3 linked regions of the Homo sapiens genome follow. The protein of the gene in region 1 interacts with the protein of each later gene in a biochemical or structural test. Each region holds a gene or a part of one and is shown on either strand. Other genes may lie near its edges.

Region 1 (7,135 bases):
AAACTCTCTGGGGTCCTCAATAAGCATATAAAGGGTTCTGAGAGCAAAAAGTTTGAGAACTATTACTACAATCCAATGAGCACTACAAAAGTAGAAAAAAGGGTGCTCAATTCCAAAAGAAAGTAGTCTTCACAGAAGAAAACATACTGACTGGGAATCTACATGATGGATATATTTTTGTTTGAGTTTTCCTTGTTGGGGGGGCAGGGTGAGAGAGGCAGAATCCAAGAAAATGGAAATGGAGTATTTCCATGTGTCCTGAAAAAAGGTGAGTAGAGACTAATGTAATGGAAATTCGTGTAACAAATATAATTTACTGGAGAGGCTGAATATGTACAGGAAAGGGGTTGGCCTGCAGATTGCAAACTACAGTTTACTTTACAGAAAATGTGGAGCCATCCAAGAATTTGTGATTGAAAAAAAAATTTAAACCTTCGTTTCCTTTGTCAAGACTCCCAAAATAATTAGCATACTTTTTTTTTTTTTTTTTTTTTCAAGCTTTGAGGACGAAGTCTGAGGTCTAGCTGTGGTACAAAACAAACTTTAACATTTTTCTGGAGTATAAGGCTCTAAACTTTATGCATCATAAGAGTGACAGCTTAATTCGAAAAGTCTGTGTATGTAAAACTAAACCATACATATTTACATTTAACAGCATGGCCCCTGCTTTATTAAAAAATGTTCCTGAAGGTCCGGCAGGGTAGCTCACGCCTGTAATTCCAGCACTTTCGGAGGCCGAGGAGGAAGGATCGCTTGAGCCCAGGATCGCTTGTTGCCCAGCCTGGGCAACAAAGTAAGGCGGCCCACACCCGTCCCCCGCCCCTGCCCGTCTCTTAAAAAAAAAAAAATTTAATACTAATGTAACGGAGTTTATACCTTAAAGATTTTTTATCCTTAAAGTTCAAACATATGGCAAATTCATGTTACTCCAAGTATACTGCAAAATAAACAGCACTCTAAATAGTTCTGTGCCTAGTCTTCCTCTCTTGTGCTGCTGTCGACTTCTCGTTGCCCTGCAGTCAATGATATCACATATTTCTACAATACACTACAGTGCTTTCAGCTCTACGGTGCCTACACAAAAACAAAATAAATCCATAAAGAGGGGCCCCTGGGATGGATGGGAAACGCCTCCAACAAGCCTAGTGGCTGGTTTTTGAGTCAATCAACTAACTCTTGGCAGAAAGCCAAGCAAATGGAAAACAGACTTTGAAACCGGCTAATCTACAACTCTATGACAATACCTTTCTAAAAATGTTCTGTATTTGCTAAATCTAACTCTTTTCTCTATGTCTCTATCCCTCTGCTGAAAATAAAGCAACGTTATTATGCTGCCATAAACAAGGTTTTTTCCCACCACTGGAAGTATTGTCTTCTTTGCTCTAACAAAGATGCATGCCATTTATTCACTGCAATAGATAAGCAATTATAATGCTGTAAGATGATTCTGTAAATGTTGGGCACAGAAATCCTGCCTGCTTTACAAACATTTAAAAAAACTTAGATGAAACTACAACTACACCGAAATTTTTAGACATTTAAGACCTTTATTTCCTTCTAGCATACAGTAATTCCTTGCCTTTTCTTATTTTGATGGGCAGTTACAATTTATAAGTACTTTTTAAACTAGGAACAACCGGTTGGGAACTATCTGAAAGCAATCAGCTAAGGCAATTTCCAAAAAGAAAACCCAAGCAGAATCTAACGCACACCCTTAACACGGGGCCAGTTTTTAAGAGGTAACAACACGTTCCGCGTTTTTAGTTTTCATAAGCAGTACAGGTTTATGATCCTAAAAACATCTCACCATCATTACAACGGAATTCCTTCCAAAACTTTAAGTTGCCGGATGGTTACGTTTCAGCCCTTCTAAATTAGCTTACGCTTTACTCCAGCAACCAACCCCAGCAATCCCGGGTCAATCTGGAGAACTGACACCACCGGTAGGAGGCAACCGAGAGGGATAAGACTTTCAGGAGCAGAATTATGACAGATTCTCTAAGGAAACACTACAGTTTTTCCTTCGCCTGGCCCAGGTGCAACATCGATTTATCTTTTGGCCAAAATCTGGCGCCAGGTTTCAAACACGTTTCCTCTGGTTGCCACCAAAGTGAAGCAGGGAAGGGAGTGGACTGCTTCCCATTGATCCTTGGAGGATGGAAATAAAGCAAGAATAGGCTGCAGGGAGACGGCAATCCTATCTTCCCCAAGGCCGCTTGGTTTGCCCGGACCTCCACCCAGCAAAGCGCTATTACAGCTTTTAGTCACTTCCATCAGTGTATACTTTGGTTGCGCTCTGGGTGCCGGGGGCCCACGCGGGGCTGGTGCCATAAAAGCCCTGAACTGCCTGAAAAAGGGGCGGGCGCCAAACAAGCCAGGGAACTTACCCAGTTTCTTCCACATGGCAAGGTGACAAGCGAGAAAGCCTTTGCGGATGGCAGCGCAAACCTTAGCCGGCTCGGACGAGGTGAAACCCTTCTGCTTCTTGATGAAACCCCACAAGTGCTCCCGGGCAAACTGTGCCGCCTCCCGCCCGCCGTGCCCGTCGCACACGGCGAAAAAGGCCACGGAGGAACGGCGGCGGCAGCAGCGGCTAGGTGCCGGCGAGGCCCCGGCGTCCGGGAGAGGGTCGCGAGCCTCTCGGGCTGCCACCGCTGGGCCTTTCCCCGAGACTTCGCCGCCGGGAAGGGCGGCCGGCGACGGCCGCGGAGGCAACGGCTGAGACAGCGACCGCCGCGGCGAGGGCTTTTCTTCAGCCGTCGGTTCGGGCTCCACAACGATTTGAGTAACGTCCTCCATGTACTTCCTCCCGCCCTGGTCGGAGAAGACGCTCACTCCCAGCGAGTACAGCCCCGCCATGGCCGGCTGGCCGGGATCCCGCCGGTCCCACGCAGCCCGCCGAATCCGGCGGCGGGAGACACACTAGGCGCTCGCCGGCCAACTATTGTTTATCTTCGACGACGCCGAGAAGGGGGAGGGGGCGGACCCGGAGAAGGGGGGGCGCGCGATGTCTGGACTTGTCCGCGAGAGCTGGGCCGGAGCGCCGGAGCGAGCAGAGCCAGGCAGTTGCGCCTGCGCACTGCGCTTCCCCCCACCGCCCGCGCCCACCACACAAATCAGGCGTTCTCCCCCGCTGACGTCACTCGGCTCTCTAAGCTCGACCAATCCGGAGTCGAGTGGAGCGAGCCCGCCCTCCGTCCCCGCCTTCGCTCCCGCCTGCGACGGCCGCGCTGCCTCCTCCCGCCGCTGGCGCTGGGCCCGCGCATCTCCTAGTTTGCTTCCCCTACGCCGCGGGCGTTTTCGCCCTCCGGGTTGTCGGCAGTTGTTGATCCTTTCCCGAGCGGCTTGGTCTGTGTAGGCTTTTGGCTCAGTCCAGCGTTCTTAATGCGGCCTGCTGGCCTTGGCGTCCCGCTGCTTGCTTTGCTAGGAAGGTGGTGTGGGCTCGGGCCCCCAGCGAGTGGAGAATGAAGGGAGAAGAGTTCACCCTCCTCCTAAGCGAAATGGCGGGAAACCTCCCTTCCAAAGGGCGATTGTGAGCTGGCCGGAACAAGTGCTGCACCCTTGAGCTGGATCTGGGTGGGACGTATTCGACTGGGAATGGAGGAGGGAGGGAGTCCAGTTCTGTTGTTTAAAAAGCACTTAGGAAATTTCCACCGTCAGCTGCACAGTCTCGGTTCACATAACTAGGTATGTCAGAGACGTAAGAGGGCTGTATTCTAACGAATTCCTAGGCAGATCTTTTCAGCTTTTGTTAAAGGTAGTGCTCGTTCCGACCAGCTCTGGATACAGCATTTTATTCCTGCGGTATCACTTCAAGTTATCACTTGAAAATAACTGACAAACACTGCCAAGAGCCCCAGTGCTCTAACGGTTTGGTGATCGTCCCCTCTCTTCACCGAGTCGGTCACAATCCCAACGCTAAAACCTTTGCACGGATTTTCATGGAGTTAAGCCGCAGAGCGAGGAATACACTAGTATTTGCTCAGTAGCATACGTTTTGTAGTTGAATCACTTTAAAGTTCACTTTTCCCGTTTTTGGCCATTTCTTCATCAATCTGTACTTTCCTGTAAAACCTTTGAGATTTTCAAATGGCCTAAAAACAGTATGGAAACGGGAATGGGGGGAATGTACATACAGTTGGCACAAGAAATAAAAATAGAAAAAATCTTTATATCAATAAAAATATAAATAAGCAAAATCAGCTCAAGAAAATGTAGAAAATCTGAATAGATCAACTAAGTAAAAATAAATACAATTGAAGATATTCATTACCCCAAAAAGCACTAGACCAGATGGTTCCAGGGCATGGAAACGCTTGAAAAAAAAAATCCCAGCTTGTTTGGAGAGGTAATCATAACCCTGTTAGTAAAACCTAAGCATTATGAACACTAAAAGGAAACCTACAGACCCTGTTTTGTAACGATGAATACAAAAATCCTAAATGAAATATTAGCATTGTAATTAGGGAGCAGCCTCCATATCACAAGAACGGTTTGTGTAGCTCTATATTATTCATCTTACCGTTCACCACGTTTGACCCAAGAGATTACCAAAAGATAATTCCATCATGCTTTATAATCCTTTCCACCTCAATCACAACCAGTAGGATCTGCGTCATCCGTTTATTGCTCTAGTATCTCCATGCTACTCTCTGCTTCAATTACTCTGATTCCATATCCCACTCTTCACCAAATATCCTAACCATTTCACTTCACACTTTTGATTTCAACATCTGCCATCAACCACTTCCCCTTTATTCTTAGCCTCTTCTGTAAATGTTCCCATCAACTTCCCATTCCAACTGAAACCCGGTTTATCACTTAGCAAAACTACCTCCCTTGCAACTTTTCAAGTACAGGAGGTTATTTTTCCTCTCATAGGTATTCTTATCTGTGGCCTATTCCTCATATTACCTCCAAACCACTTCTCTTCCTTCCTCCCTCAGAAACTCAAGTGCTTTTAAAATTTATGCAGACTGCTGCTACTCTGAGATGCTGTCAGCTACTGATCCCTGGTATCTCCCCATCATTTTTCATAGCCCACCGTCTTTGTTTCTTCCACTATTCGTGTCACTTCTCATCCACTTTATTTTTCAAGATACTATCCATATCTTCCATACTGTCTCCTTTTCAAGAGTTTTACTGCTCCAACAATTATCCTCCTTGCTCCTGCCTCATCAATCTCTCCTTTCTCTCTGTCTTTCTAAATGTTAAAGACGGGGTCTATGATGCCCAGGCTGGGGTGCAGTGATTATTCACAGGCGCAATTATAGCTCACTGCAGCCTCAAACTCCTGACCTCAAGTGATCCTCCAACTTTAGCCCCCAAGTAGCTGAGATTAAGGCACATGTCACCACACCCAGACTAATTTCTCCTCTTCTGGGTCATTTCCATTTGTGTATAAATATGTTCTGTTTTTTTTCTTTTTTTTGAGACAGAGTCTCCCTCCATCACCCAGGCTGGAGTGCAGTGACGTGATCTCGGCTCACTAGCAACCTCTGCCTCCTGGGATCAAGGAATTCTCGTGCCTCGGCCTCCCTAGTAGCTGGGACTACAGGTGTGAGCCACCATATCTGGCCACTATTACCTCTTACCTGGACCACTACACTCGCCTCCTCACAAATCTTTCTTTCACTCTTGGCCCTCTGCTATCCTTTTTCCGCTAGGTACTATAGCGATCTTTCAAAAACCATGAATCAGATCAAGTCATTCTTTTACTCAATACATGGCTTCCATCACATTTAATATAATGTAGGCCAGGCACAGTGGCTCACACCTGTTATTCCAGCACTTTGGGAGGCCAACGCGGGCAGATCACTTAAGGCCAGGAGTGGAGACCAGCCTGGCCAACATGGCAAAACACTGTCACTTCTAAAAATACAAAAATTAGCCAGTCATGGTGGCGTGCACTTGTAGTTCCAGCTACTAGGGGGAGAGGCTGAGGCAGGAGAATCACCTGAACCTGGGAGGCAGAGGCTGCAGTGAGCTCAGATCACACCACTACCTTGAAGCCTGGGCAACAGAGACTTTGTCTCAAAAAAATAAAATAATATGCAAACTCCTTATGAAGGCCTGAATCATCTGTTTGGCCCCTAAATGTTTGTCTAACATCTTTTCATAACACTTTCCCCTTCACCACTCACCGCTAGCTTCACTGGCCTTTTTTCTGTTCCTTGAACAGAAAATATCAAACTATTAGGAGACTTAGTGATTTTTTTTTTTCATTAGCGGTTCCCTCTCCTTGAAATGCCATCCCCACTCCCAGCAGCTTTACAAAGCTGGATTCTTCTTGCTACTCAGATCTCAGTTGAAATATTAAGGGACTTTCTTAACCACCCAATCTAACGTAGCCACCCAATATCTCTCTATCACATAACCCTATTTTAATTATCTGCAGAGGACTACTCACTAGCTGATCTTTTTTGTTTATTTGTCCCAATTAGAATATAGGCTCCATGAGAACAGGGAACTTGCCTTGTTCATTGCTGTACACTCTGAGCCTCGGACAAAGAGTTGTTGAGTGAGTTGATTAATTAATTTACTCAGCACGAAATGTATAAAATTAATATGAGGAAAACCAGGAAACGTTGCTAAAGAAAAAATAAGTCCTAAATAAATGTAAAAACATACCATGTTTCTAGATGAGAAAACAACTCAATTGGTCTCAAATTAATCTACAAATATAACTTTAATCAAAATTCCAACTGGATTCTTTTTTTTTTACTTGACAAGTTGATTCCAACATTTATCTGGAAGAGAAAATGGATAAGAATAGCCAAGATGTTGAAAAAGAAGGTGATTAGTTGTCCTACAGATATTAGAATATTTTTTATGTTTTAATTTTTATTTATTTATTATTATTATTTTTTTTTTTTTGAGACAGACTGTCACTCTGTCGCCCAGGCTGGAGTGCAGTGGTGTGATTTCAGCTCACTGCAAGCTCTGCCTCCCGGGTTCAAGCAGTTCTAATGCCTCAGCCTGCCGAGTAGCTGGGATTACAGGCACACACCACTATGCCAGGCTAGTTTTTGTATTTTTAGTAGAGACGGGGTTTCACCATGTTAGCCAGGATGATCTCGATCTCCTGACCTCGTGATCCGCCCGCCTCTGCCTCCCAAAGTGCTGGGATTACAGG
Region 2 (6,491 bases), on another chromosome or scaffold:
TCGGCTAACATGAGCGACTGCTGCTGCTCTCCAATAACAACTCAGTTCCTACCACTTCTTTTTTTTTTTTTTTTTTTTTTTTTTGAGACAGGGTCTCCCTCTGTCATGCAGGCTGGAGAGCAGTGGCGCGATCTTAGCTCACTGCATCCTCTGACTCAAACGATCCTCCTGCCCCAGCCTCCCAAGTAGCTGGGGCTACAGGCATGTGCCACCACACCTGGCAAATTTTTGTATTTTTTGTAGAGACAGGGTTTCACCATGTTGCCTAGGCTGGTCTTGAACTCCTGGGCTCAAGTGATCTGCCAGGCCTCCCAAAGTGCTGGGATTACACTCTTGAGCCACTGTGCCCAGCCAGTTCCTACCATTTCTTAAATAAACATTAAAATGCTTGATCATAGAATTACTCTTGCTTTCTTTTCTTTTCTTTTTTTTTTTTTTTTTTTGAGACGGAGTTTTGTTCTTGCCCAGGCTGGAGTACAATGGTGCGATCTCGGCTCACCGCAACCTCCGCCTCCCAGGTTCAAGCGATTCTCCTGCCTCAGCCTCCCTAGTAGCTGGGATTACAGGCATGTGCCACCACGCCCAGCTAATTTTGTATTTCTAGTAGAGACGGGGTTTCTCCATGTTGGTCAGGCTGGTCTCGAACTCCTGACCTCAGGTGATCTGCCTGCTTCAGCCTCCCAAAGTGCTGGGATTACAGGCGTGAGTCACCGCACCCGGCCATGAATTACTCCTGCTTTCTAACAGCACCCAGTCCAGAGCAAAACTACTTTCTTTCACCCTCTCCCAAAATACCCAAAACAAACGCTACTACAAGCCCCTCCTAACACCCTCTTACTGAGACATTCCGTGGTTCCCAATGGTGTGTGGTTTCTGAAGTCTCCCTTTTTACAACAAGTCATTAAACCTAGCTTTGAACTATAGATGTGTTTCTGATGGTCTTTGGCTGATGAACATCAACAAGTGTTTATTAAAGCTAAGTACTTTTTAAACACTATCTTATTTAAATCTTGTAATGGTTTTATGTGGCAGATGTTATAATCAGCCCTGTTTTACAGATGAGAAAACAGGCTTAGAGAAGTTAAATGTGTCATGATCAAGATCAAGGTCACAAAGCTAAGAAGTAAAGTTGGTATCCAAACTTACATCAGAATGGGCTAAACCAAATTTAAGATAGTAACTAGTTTGGAAGGCTGCACGAAAGAGGTGGAATATTGGGAATTGCCTTGGGTGACATAAAAGGAGTATTGAGTTCTTAAAAGTGACTTGGGTGAGGTGGATGATAACAGCTGTAAACAGAACTTAGACAAAAATAGGACCAAGGTTTGCAGAGGAAGTGGGTATTAACTTTTCCTTCTTTCTTCCTTGCTTCCAAAGGTGATTGTCGGGATGATCATGTCTTTTCCCTCTACTTCATGATACCCTTTTTTTTCACCACTTTGGGATTGCTCTACCACAACTGGTAAGTAGGCCTGTGGATAAGGGGACAACTACCTGAACACATGGCAAAGATGGCCCTTATCATAACCCACCTTGTGGTGGTGAAGCTAAACCTGCGCATACCTCTATGGAGTTTTCTGCGTCTTCAGTTGGTCGTATTCTGAAATTTCTCTCTACCCAGTAGTAGTTAGGGATGAGTGCGTGGAGGCCCCAGGAATAGATGAATTCAGGGCCTTGGATCCTGCAGAGTTGCTGCACAACTGGAGTCTCCTCTGAGTCAGAACTAGGGTCAGGGCTAGTCCAGTGCCCATAGGGTGTGATGTGAGAGAAGGGATTGGTAATGCCTCTTGCCACTGGCTCGGATCCTCTTCCCCCACACAGGTACCCATCACGGGTGTTTGTGGGAGATACCTTCTGTTACTTTGCTGGCATGACCTTTGCCGTGGTGGGCATCTTGGGACACTTCAGCAAGACCATGCTACTATTCTTCATGCCCCAGGTGTTCAACTTCCTCTACTCACTGCCTCAGCTCCTGCATATCATCCCCTGCCCTCGCCACCGCATACCCAGGTAGCCGCTTTTTGGCTTGAAATGGACATCATAGCCTTTTCACTTGGGATATCTAATGCCAGCCTATACATTTGCTGTGCAAAGGGAGTGGGCCCAAAGAAGGGCTATTTCCATGTGAGTAGCCCTTTATAACTTACAAAGCACATTTATTTGCATAATCTGCTACAGTGGTTCTGATAACAGTAAGCAGCAGAGCCAGAAATAGATCTCAGGTTGACTCCACATTCAATGCTCTTCCTATTAGCCACAGGGAGGAGGGTTCAAATAGTGGCCCAGTCACATGAAGCTATCTTCCCCCCGCAGACTCAATATCAAGACAGGCAAACTGGAGATGAGCTATTCCAAGTTCAAGACCAAGAGCCTCTCTTTCTTGGGCACCTTTATTTTAAAGGTAACAGGGTAACAAGGAGGTAAGGCCCTAGGCTGCCATCCTGACCTTGAGGAATGGGGAACCTAGTCCTACATCAGATCCAAGGGGAACTTGAAAGCATTAAATAGATCCACATTCCTAAAGCATAGGTATTAGCTGAGGTTCTCTTCACCTCTGGTCCCTCCAGGTGGCAGAGAGCCTCCAGCTGGTGACAGTACACCAGAGTGAGACTGAAGATGGTGAATTCACTGAATGTAACAACATGACCCTCATCAACTTGCTACTTAAAGTCCTTGGGCCCATACATGAGAGAAACCTCACATTGCTCCTGCTGCTGCTGCAGGTGAGGATGGGAATCGAGTTTATACCTCCGTGTCTCCCTTTCTGCGTGATTCTTACTCCAGTCCATTTCTCCTTGCAGATCCTGGGCAGTGCCATCACCTTCTCCATTCGATATCAGCTCGTTCGACTCTTCTATGATGTCTGAGTCCCTTGATCATTGTCCTTTACCTCACAGTCTCTAGGATTCCTGACTCAGGCTGACCTCTCTCTCTGGTCCCAGACTGCCTCCTTGCCCAGGCCTCTCTCACTCTTCATACTCCTCCAGATTTTGTTCTCAGCATTTTCCTTTCTCTGTGATCATTGGCATCCTGGGCGTTTCTTGCCCTCTGCTGACTACTGATTGGATTTTACCTATGGCTTTCTGCAACTTGCTACTCTCTCCCTCTCCATCCCATCTTTGCAGCCTCATAGGGTGGGATACAGCAGCTTTTTTTGCAGTTATCCACACTCACATTTCAGAGTCCTGACTCTCAAGGAACCACTGGTTTTTGGGATAGAACTTGGGCCAGGGCTAGGAACACAGGCTCCACGGTGACATGTCATTTGATTGTAAATTAAGTGTTCTGATTAGTAAGAACTAAGCAGGGGGCCACATGCTCTCAATGGAGACAATAAAGTGTTGTCTTTTTCTTATTGTTTATGTAGGTATATTTCCTATATGGGCATTTTTGGGTAGATTGGGAGGGGTGGTGGGGGTACTTCCTCCAACAGGATGCCTATCTCTCTGCCCCATCAGACCCCGTCTAACAAGAAGTGAACAGAACTGAGACCAAACAGAACATATTGAATAAATATTTAAATCCTGATACTAGAGGTGGCATGGAGGGCCACAAAATTGAAGTTATCCTGTTTCCTGGCATGGGAACAAACTTTCAAAGAGTCACCGGGTGCAGTGGCTCATGCCTGTAATCCCAGCACTTTAGGAGGCTGAGGCAGGAGGATTGCCTGAGCCCAGGAATTCAAGACAGCCTGGGCAACAAAACGAGACTCCGTCTCTACAAAAATAAAATAATTAGCCAAGTGTGGTGGAGCACTTGTAGTACCAGCTACGAGGGAGGTTTAGCAGGGAGGATTCCTTGAACCCAGGAGTTCGAGGCTGCAGTGAGCTGAGATCACACTACTGCACTCCAGCCTGGGTGACAGAGCCAGTGACACCCGGTCTATTAAAAAAAGAAAGAAAGAAAAAAAAGAAAACTTTTAAGGGGTCTAATTTCTTCACTTTTCCATTCTCCCTTTGTCAGGTAGGAGAAGGGAGTAGGGAGTGACTGGACCTGGAAAGGAGGGCTGCAGTAGCTATAATATTGACCCCTTTCCTTTAAAAATCCTACGCCGGCACAGATTTCCCAGACGCTCTCTAGGTGGCCTCAGACTCCACCCCTTTGGTCTTCCGCTTCTGGTTTCCGATTGTAGTGTTTAAATCTCGCGCGCTTTACAAGGATTGGCTACATCAGCGGATAGTTGGCAGTCTGCGTGCTACCCCTCCTCCTCGCCTTTTCTCCCCGGGCAAAAGGTTTTCAAATTCGACCAATCAGCGGGCGCGCTCCCTCAGCCGAGCCGCGACACCCAAGGGTTAACCGCAACCAACCGGAGGCGGGTATTGGAGAAAAGAGCCAATCAGGAGGGCGCAGAGGTGTGTCCTGGGGGCTTATAAAGGCGGCCTCGCGGCGCGCGCGCGACAGCAGTTACACTGCGGCGGGCGTCTGTTCTAGTGTTTGAGCCGTCGTGCTTCACCGGTCTACCTCGCTAGCATGTCGGGCCGCGGCAAGACTGGCGGCAAGGCCCGCGCCAAGGCCAAGTCGCGCTCGTCGCGCGCCGGCCTCCAGTTCCCAGTGGGCCGTGTACACCGGCTGCTGCGGAAGGGCCACTACGCCGAGCGCGTTGGCGCCGGCGCGCCAGTGTACCTGGCGGCAGTGCTGGAGTACCTCACCGCTGAGATCCTGGAGCTGGCGGGCAATGCGGCCCGCGACAACAAGAAGACGCGAATCATCCCCCGCCACCTGCAGCTGGCCATCCGCAACGACGAGGAGCTCAACAAGCTGCTGGGCGGCGTGACGATCGCCCAGGGAGGCGTCCTGCCCAACATCCAGGCCGTGCTGCTGCCCAAGAAGACCAGCGCCACCGTGGGGCCGAAGGCGCCCTCGGGCGGCAAGAAGGCCACCCAGGCCTCCCAGGAGTACTAAGAGGGCCCGCGCCGCGGCCGGCCGCCAGGCCTCCCCATGCCACCACAAAGGCCCTTTTAAGGGCCACCACCGCCCTCATGGAAAGAGCTGAGCCGCTTCAGACTGCGGGGCAAGCGGGCCGCGGCTCCCTTCCCCTCCCCTCCCCTCGCCCGCCTTCGCCGCCCGGCCTCGAGTCCCCGCCCGCCCCCGCTCCCGTCCCGCACCGCCTGCCGCGTCGGCCTCGGGCCCTGCCCTGTCCGCCGTCCGCCCTCCGGTAGGGTTCGGGCCTTCCGGATGCGGCTTGGGCGCTCTTCGGGGACCTCCGTGGCGCGGAAGACCCGAGCCTGCCGGGGGGAGGCCGGCGGCGCCGCACCTGCCCGCCTCGGCGTTCGTGACTCAGCCGCCCCATCCCGAGTCGCTAAGGGGCTGCGGGGAGGCCGCAGCACCTTCTGGAAGACTTGGCCTTCCGCTCTGACGCAGGGCCGAGGTGGGCAGTCCAGGCCGAGAGGCCGGCGGCCCTGAAGGTGAGTGAGGCCCTCGGCAGCTGCAGCCGGGGTGTCTGGTACCCCCCCGGCGTGGTGCTTAGCCCAGGACTTTCAGACGCGGCCGCTGGCCGGGAGGCTTTGGTGGGAGAGACGCGATCGCCGATTTCGGTCTGGCGCCCCTTCTGCGGCCGGGACCCAGGCCTTTCACATCAGCTCTCCCTCCATCTTCATTCATAGGTCTGCGCTGGGGCCGGGACGAAGCACTTGGTAACAGGCACATCTTCCTCCCGAGTGACTGCCTCCTAGGAGGACATTTAGGGGAGGGCAGAGGCCTGCAGTTTGGCTTCACGGCTGGCTATGTGGACAGCAAGAGTCGTTTTCGCGGAAGCCGACTGGCAGCCAGGCCTGTCGGGCCCCCCGACGCCGCCCCATTTCCCTTCCAGCAAACTCAACTCGGCAATCCAAGCACCTAGATACCAGCACAAGTCGGTTAATCCCTGTCTGGACTGAGCCTCCGTTGGCTTCTGAACTGGAATTCTGCAGCTAACCCTTCCACGACTAGAACCTTAGGCATTGGGGAGTTTTAGATGGACTAATTTTATTAAAGGATTGTTTTTTTTTTAAATGGAGCGTTTGTTTTCATTTTGCAAGAGAGTTGTAGAATTAGTGACTTTCTATACTTTCCTGATAATAGGGGTGGGAGGGGCCATGCAATATAAACAGGCTCTACTGTTAACTGAAGGGGCAAACCATAGGAATTTAAGATTGTGGCTCTGTTTCTTGGTGTTCCTGGGAGACAATTTATTCTGTGTGAAATGAAAACTATTGAGGCAGAAGCAGAAAGGACGTACCAGGAGAACTCTGGGCAAAAGTCCCAGCCTCTGAGGTAAGGATGAAAGGGCTTTGTGTTTGTTCCTATCTTCCCGCCAACTCCACACGCGCACACACAACACCTTCAGAACTGGTTTATTAGTAGGATTGGTTACATTCAAAGGCTGTTGCTTGGACTTCTCTAAAGAGATGAAGCCCCCACATACTGAGGAGGCAAGGCAGTCATCAAGGCCCCAAGGTGAGGCAAATCCCTGGAAGGCTTGAACCCTGCAGTTCAGTCTCCCGGGGTAATCA
Region 3 (7,000 bases), on another chromosome or scaffold:
CCCAGCCTCTTTGTTTTCTTACTTTTAAAGGTGATGTATCCCATTTAGCCCTTTCTCACCATTTCTATTTCTCACTCATCTAAACCTATAGGCCTATCTGAAAAAATATATTGTATTTTATTTATTTGTTTATTTTTTGGAGACGGAATCTCGCTCTGTCACCCAGGCGGGACTGCAGTAGCGCAATCTCAGCTCACTGCAACCTCCACCTCCCAAGTTCCAGCAATTCTCCTGTCTCAGCCTCCTGTGTGGGTGGGATTACAGATGCCTGCCACAACGCCCCGCAAATTTTTTTTTCTTTTTTTTTTGAGATGGAGTTTCGCTCTTGTTGCCCAGGCTGGAGTGCAATGGCGAGATCTCGGTTCACTGCAACCTCTGCCTCCCAGGTTCAACCGATTCTCCTGCCTCAGCCTCCTGAGTAGCTGGGATTACAGGAGCCCGCCACCATGCCCAGCTAATTTTGTATTTTTAGTAGAGACAGGGTTTCTCCATGTTGGTCAGGCTGGTCTCGAACTCCCGATCTCAGGTGATCCGCCCATCTCGGCCTCCCAAAGTGCTGGGATTACAGGCATGAGCCACCACGCCTGGCCTAATTTTTGTATTTTTAACAGAGACAGGGTTTCCCCATGTTGGCCAGGATGGCCTCAAACTCCTGACCTCAGGTGATCCACCTGCCTTGGTCTCTCAACGTGCTGGGATTACAGGCATGAGCCACAATGCCCGGTCTGAAAAATATATTTTAAATCAGTTAAAAATAGCTTCGAGTGTCTACTTATAAATTTAAAGTTGTATATGTGGAATGCAGGTATATTCCTCCATTTTTTATAGTTTTTTCAAGATATCAAAGTTAGACATGAAATAAAACAAGGATGGTGAGTGACAAAACACAAAATGATACATCAGTCCTTCATTTCTTTATATTAACATATTCTATCCTGTTAATGCCAAGTTCAAATTTGTTTATTAAAGAGGTCATTGCAATGTAAGCGAAAGGAAAAAAAACACTATTTTTTTTGGCCGGAGTGCAGTGGTGCAATCCTGGCTCATTGCAACCTCTGCCTCCCAGGTTCAAGCAATTCTCATGTCTCATCCTCCTGAGTAGCTGGGATTGCAGACATGCGCCACCACACCTGGCTAATTTTTGTATTTTCAGGAGAGACAGGGTTTTGCCATGTTGCCCAAGCTGGTTTCGAACTCCTGGCCTCAAGTGATCCTCCCGCTTTGGCCTCCCAAAGTGCTGGGATTACAGGCGTGAGCCACCATGCCTGGCAATGTTAAAATACACACATGTGTATTTTAAACATATGCAGAGCAAAACTTACTATTGGAACCAGGAGGTGTCAGAAAGGGTCAACATGTTTAAATCACAAGGTTGGCTATTTTGAGACAAAAACAAGTAACAAGTAGTCAACAAATGGCCATCTCTATTCTGAACAGCTCTGATTCTCTGAAGCTGTGGCAAACCACAGCAGAGGTTAACTAGTGAAGCTTTTGTGATTAGGGGATAATGTTTGCAAGTTTGAGTGAATCTGCATTTTTCTAGGAAGAGGGTCCAAAGCTACCTTCAGATCTTTGGATGGACAGCACATTGTAAATGTCCAATTATTATTTGTTGAAAGAGTAAATGAACAGAATCCACAGCAGGTAACAGCCAGGGCAACACCCAATACTGCCTCTTTGGTTTTACCTTTTATCACATTCAAACTCCAGAATTATTCTAAGAGTGGCTCAAGCATTCTGCTGCAACTAACTAAGGCAGGAAAATAGGGTCTGAAGGCAGGGAATCTATGGCCAATTCACGCAAACTTCCTGGAATAGATGGGCACGGTTGCTCATGCCTGTAATCCCAACACTTTGGGAGGCCGAAGCAGGAGGATCACTTGAGGCCAGGAGTTCGAGACCAGCCTGGCCAACGTGGTGAAACCCCGTCTCTACTAAAAATACAAAAATTAGCCAGGTGTGGTGGTGTGTGTCTGTAATCCCAGCTACTCAGGAATCTGAGACAGGAGAATCGCTTGAACCCAGGAGTCAGAGGCTGCAGTGAGCCGAGCCGAGATGGCGTCACTGCACTTGTCTGTGCGACAGAGCAAGACTCCGTTGCCAAAAAAAAAAAAAAAAAAATTCCTGAAACTAAACAAAAAAGGAAGAATTTGCACTCTGGCCTATGATCCGTCCATTCTAGGACCTTCATTTGCATAAGGCGTCAATCCACACCAGTCTTGGAATGGCCGAGCTCCAATTCACTTTGGCCTCTAATGGGCTGTGAGCCAGCACTTCATTTACATAGGATGTAAACAGTGGGAGACCTCTAGAGGGTACTTGAACCCCAGAAGACTTTGCTACAAGGGCTCTGCAGCCACTTGCTCAGGCCTGCTCCCATCCTGTGACATGTACTTTAGCTTCTATTGCCTTCCACTTCAATAAATCTATGCTTTCATTGCTTGTTCATGCATGATGTTCAATTATTTGTTCAACGTGCCAAAAACCTGGACAACTCCAATCAGAACCTTCCACCTGGTAATACAACTTTCTGTAAGTGTTTTTCTGAACAAAACGTGATACTATACAACAAAGGGTCTTACCAAGATTGGCAAATCCATCCTGAAGGGCCCATAATCGAGCCCAGGGGGCAGGGGTAGGCTCCTCAGGTTCTTGGTCCTCAGGTTCTTGGTCCTCAGGAATAGAATAGAGTTCCTGAGTGGACACTGTCTCTAAGGAGCTCAGTGTCCCAGAGCTGGAGTGAGAGGACTGGCTGGAGTTTGGCATCGTGCTGGTAGAGGAGCTGGATATGCCCTGGGACTGTGAGGAGGAGCCTTGGGACTGGGTAACGCTGCCATGGGGCTGTGAACAGGCACTGCTGCCATGAGACTGCTGAGCCTCAACATCCGACTCCCGAGACATCACGACCTCAAAAAGAAAGTGTCCAACAACAAAGGTGAGTTTCAAGGCACAAGACTTAAAATTAAAAAGTAAATGATGGGCCTATTACAACAGCAAAAGAAAAGAAAAAAAAAAAAACAGGGCAAACATGCTCTCCAAAAATTAAAAGTCCTAACAGCCCAGACCTATAGTTCTTCTGGGCTGAGCTTTTCACCAGATCATTGTCACCAGATCAGTTTTTTATCTGACAGCCATAAACTACAGGGAAAAACAAATTATCTGAAGGTTACAAATAAGTAAAAAGCAATAAAATTGAGCTGGGGGGCTCATAAAAGCTTACATTTGTCCAATTCTTTTAAATTAAGACTGAAACCAAAAATGTACTGATACAATCAACACTACATTTAAATTTCATATATACAGGGGGCCAGGCGCGGGGGTTCACTCCTGTAGTCCCGCACTTTGGGAGGACAAGACGGGCAGATCATGAGGTCAGGAGTTCAAGACCAGCCTGGCCAACATAGTGAAACTCCGTCTCTACTAAAAATACAAAAAATTAGCCAGGCGTGGTGGCGGGCACCTGTATTCTCAGCTACTCGGGAGGCTGAGGCAGGAGAATCGCTTGAGCCCGGGAGGCAGAGGTTGCAGTGAACCAAGATTGCACCACTGCACTCCAGCCTGGGCAACAGTGCAAGACTCCGTTTCAAAAAAAAAAACTCATATATACAGTCCTCAATTTAACAATGCTTCTATTTAACAATGTTTAGACTTTCTGTGAAAGCAATCAGTAGACACTTACTTCTCCAAGTCCTCACATAACCATTCTGGTTTTCACCTTCAGTACAGTATTCAAGTAATTACATGAGATATTTAACACCTTATTATAAAATAGGCCAGGTGGCCAGGTGCAGTGGCTCACACCTATAATCCCAGAACTCTGGGGGGTCAAGGCAGGTAGATCACCTGAGATCAGGAGTTCAAGACCAGCCTGGCCAACACAGTCAAACCCCGTGTCCACTAAAAATACAAAAATTAGCCGGGTGTGGTGGCAGGCGCCTGTAGTTCCAGCTACTCAGGAGGCTGAAGCAGGAGAATTGCTCGAGCCCAGGAGGCAGAGGTTGCACTGAGCTGAGATCGCGCCACTGCACTCCAGCCTGGGTGACAGGAGTGAAACCCTGTCTCAAAAAAATTAATTAATTAAATAAATAAAATTTTAAAATAAAATAAAATAGGCCAGGTGCAGTGACTCACAACTGTAAACCCAATATTTCGGGTGGTGGAGGTAGGAGGATTGCTTGAGGGCAGGTGTTTGAGACCCCACCTCTACAAAAAATAATAACAATAATCTTTGTGTTAGATAATTTTGCCCAACTGTACCCTGACATAAGTGTTCTGAGCATGTTTAAAGGAGGCTAGGCTAAACTATGACGTTTGGTATCTTAGGTGTATTAAATGTAATTTCAATTTAACAATATTTTCAACTTAGAATGGTTTTATTTAGACATAATGCCATTGAAAGTTGAGGAGCATCTGTGTACTTTGGAAAGCAAAAGAAGACAAAAAATCAGGTGGCTTGATATAAAAGTCAAAAAGAAATTGTACAATAACCTGCTGCATTACTCCAAAGGGTCCATTTACATAAAATGTCACTGGTACCCCTTTTCCCCCAGGCTTGCTCCTAAAGTGAAACACACCTGTTCGTTCAATCTATATTCCCTGACACCTAAGGACCCAGTGACTTAATGAGGCAGAACACAAAGGAAGACAGCTCTTAACAACTCCACCTATCCCTTTGTGATGCTAAATAACCATAGGGCTTATCTTTTCAGCATCCTAAATGGCCTTCCGGCCTTGATGTAATCTTGCAGGAACCATTCTTTTATAAACTGGAGACCGTAACAGAGGCTTCCACCCTTGTCTTAGAATTAACCTGATAGACAGTTAGACTGTCATAACAGGCTGGGTGCAGTGGCTCATACCTGTAATCCCAGCACTTTGGGAGGCCAAGGCAAGAGGACCACTTGAGGCCACGAGTTCAATACCAGCCTGGCCAACATAGTGGGACCCCCCCCGCCCCCCGTACAAAAAATAAGAAAATTAGACATGATGGCATGCAGCTGTGGGCTCAGCTACTCAGGAAGGTGAGGTGGGAGGATCACTTGAGCCCAGGAGTTGAAGGCTGCAGTGAGCTATGATCATACCACTTACATACCAGCCTGGGTGGCAGAGTGAGACCCTATCTCCAAAGAACAGAAAACAAACCAAGACTCTGATAACAGAACCACCAGTAAAATCAAAGTAACATCCACTGCTGACCTAATCGGATTAACAAAAAAAAGGGAGGGAGAGGAGGGCATTCTCTTCCTCCCCAAACTCAGGCTACTACTCTAGGAGAACATAGGAAACAACACTATAGTAGTCCCCACCATCAGAGGGGGATAAGATCCAAGACCCCCCAGTGGATGCCTGAAACCTCGCATAGTACAGAACCCTATATAAATTATGCACAACTTTCTTTTTCCTTCTTCACAATTTCACAAATAGAAGATTAGTTCTTACCATAGACGTTAGCAGCCTCAGCATACAAATTTTTTTATTTCCATATTAAATTGAGATCTTTCACCTTTTCAGTAAAAGGAAACACTTTACAGCTTCTCTTTACAATATCCAAATTGCCAGCATCTTTTGCTTTGGGGCCATTATTAAATATAAGGGTGACATGAACACAAGCACTGCAAAACCATGTAATTTAAGACTTATGAACTGATTATTTCTTTTTTTTTTTTTTTTTGAAACGGAGTCTCAGTCACCCAGGCTGGAGTGCAGTGGCACAATTTTGGCTCATTGCAACCTCCACCTCCTGGGTTCAAGCAATTCTCCTGCTTCAGCCTTCCAAGTAGTTGGGATTACAGGCGCACACCACCATGCCCGGCTAATTTGTATATTTTTTTTAGTAGAGACAGGGTTTTCACCGTATTGGCCAGCCTGGTCTCAAACTGCAGACCTCAGGTGATCCTCAGGTCCACCTCAGCCTCCCAAACTGCTAGGATTACAGGCCTGAGCCACCATGCCCAGCCATGAATTGACTATTTCTTATGAATTTTCCACTTAATAGTTTCAGATCGCAGCTGACCATTGGTAAGTGAAACTACTACCGCTGATAAGGAGGGACTAAGATACCCACACTGATTGTATTTACACAGCTTTCAAGATACAAAGGTTCTGCCAGGTGTGGTGGTTCATGTCTGTAATCCCAGCACTTTGGGAGGCCAACGCAGGTAGATTGCTTGAGCCCAGGAATTCAAGACCAGCCTGGGCACCATGGTGAAATCCAGTATCTACAGAAAATACAAAAAATTAGCAGGGCATGGTGGTGTGCACCTGTAGTCCCAGCTACTTGGGAAGCTGAGGTGGGAGGATCACTTGAGTCCAGGAGGTTGAGGCTGCAGTGAGCCGTGATCGAGCCTGCACTCCAGCCTGGGTGACAGAGCGAGACCCTGTCTCAAGGAAAATAAAAAAGATACAAAGGTTCTGATGAGTTTTCTTTAAAACATACCAGGAAGGCAATGCCAAAACTGAGTATGCCACACCAGGGACTGCTGGTCTAATACTACCTGAGCCAGGCTGAGTCTTCCCCACAGCTTTTTAAGCAAGACAGGACAACTGGAGAAAATGTGTCAACAAGTTACTATGAGAGATTAGAGGCAAGCGGATCTGGAGTCAGACACTTGAGTGAAACTGTGCATGACTTTAGGTAGATCACAACTTCTCTAAACCTGTTTTCTCATCTGAAAATAAGTAGACAGACCATGAGGATTAAGTGAAGTGACGCATGTAATACTCCCCCCACCCACCCATGCTTGCTATCTGGGAGCTATTGCTATTGGAAAGCCATGCAGAGAAGTGAGTGAAAAACCAAAGTGAGGGCAGCAAAACTCCAGGACTGTAGACAGAAATCCAGTCCCAAAACCTATAAAACTACTAGAAGAAAACACTGGGGAAGTGCTCCAGGACACTCATCTTGGGCACAGGTTTTTTGGGCACAGGGTTTTTACGTAAGACCTCAAAAGCACAGGCAACTAAAGCAAAAACAGACAACTGGGATTTCATCAAGCTAAAA

Evidence for each region. The genes of interacting proteins can lie anywhere in the genome.
Region 2: of the proteins of PPM1D (region 1) and H2AX, one has a biochemical effect on the other in vitro, tested with the Homo sapiens proteins (3 studies listed by BioGRID and IntAct).
Region 3: of the proteins of PPM1D (region 1) and CHEK2, one has a biochemical effect on the other in vitro, tested with the Homo sapiens proteins (2 studies listed by BioGRID, with this or other methods).

What each region holds. Positions count from the first base shown.
Region 1 is NC_000017.11:60,596,139-60,603,273, reverse strand, and holds the start of PPM1D (protein phosphatase 1D), read right to left. Parts: upstream 3,082-7,135; 5' UTR 2,860-3,081; coding exon 2,388-2,859; intron 1-2,387. UniProt on the Homo sapiens protein: Involved in the negative regulation of p53 expression. Required for the relief of p53-dependent checkpoint mediated cell cycle arrest.
Region 2 is NC_000011.10:119,093,374-119,099,864, reverse strand, and holds H2AX (histone H2AX), read left to right. Parts: upstream 1-4,399; 5' UTR 4,400-4,470; coding exon 4,471-4,902; 3' UTR 4,903-5,991; downstream 5,992-6,491. Other genes in the region: DPAGT1 (UDP-N-acetylglucosamine--dolichyl-phosphate N-acetylglucosaminephosphotransferase), read left to right, coding at 1,378-1,462, 1,822-2,010, 2,314-2,401, 2,568-2,867. UniProt on the Homo sapiens protein: Variant histone H2A which replaces conventional H2A in a subset of nucleosomes. Nucleosomes wrap and compact DNA into chromatin, limiting DNA accessibility to the cellular machineries which require DNA as a template.
Region 3 is NC_000022.11:28,731,821-28,738,820, forward strand, and holds part of CHEK2 (serine/threonine-protein kinase Chk2), read right to left. Parts: exon of another isoform or gene 5,464-7,000; coding exon of another isoform or gene 5,440-5,463; intron 2,908-5,439; coding exon of another isoform or gene 2,902-2,907; coding exon 2,583-2,901; intron 1-2,582. UniProt on the Homo sapiens protein: Serine/threonine-protein kinase which is required for checkpoint-mediated cell cycle arrest, activation of DNA repair and apoptosis in response to the presence of DNA double-strand breaks.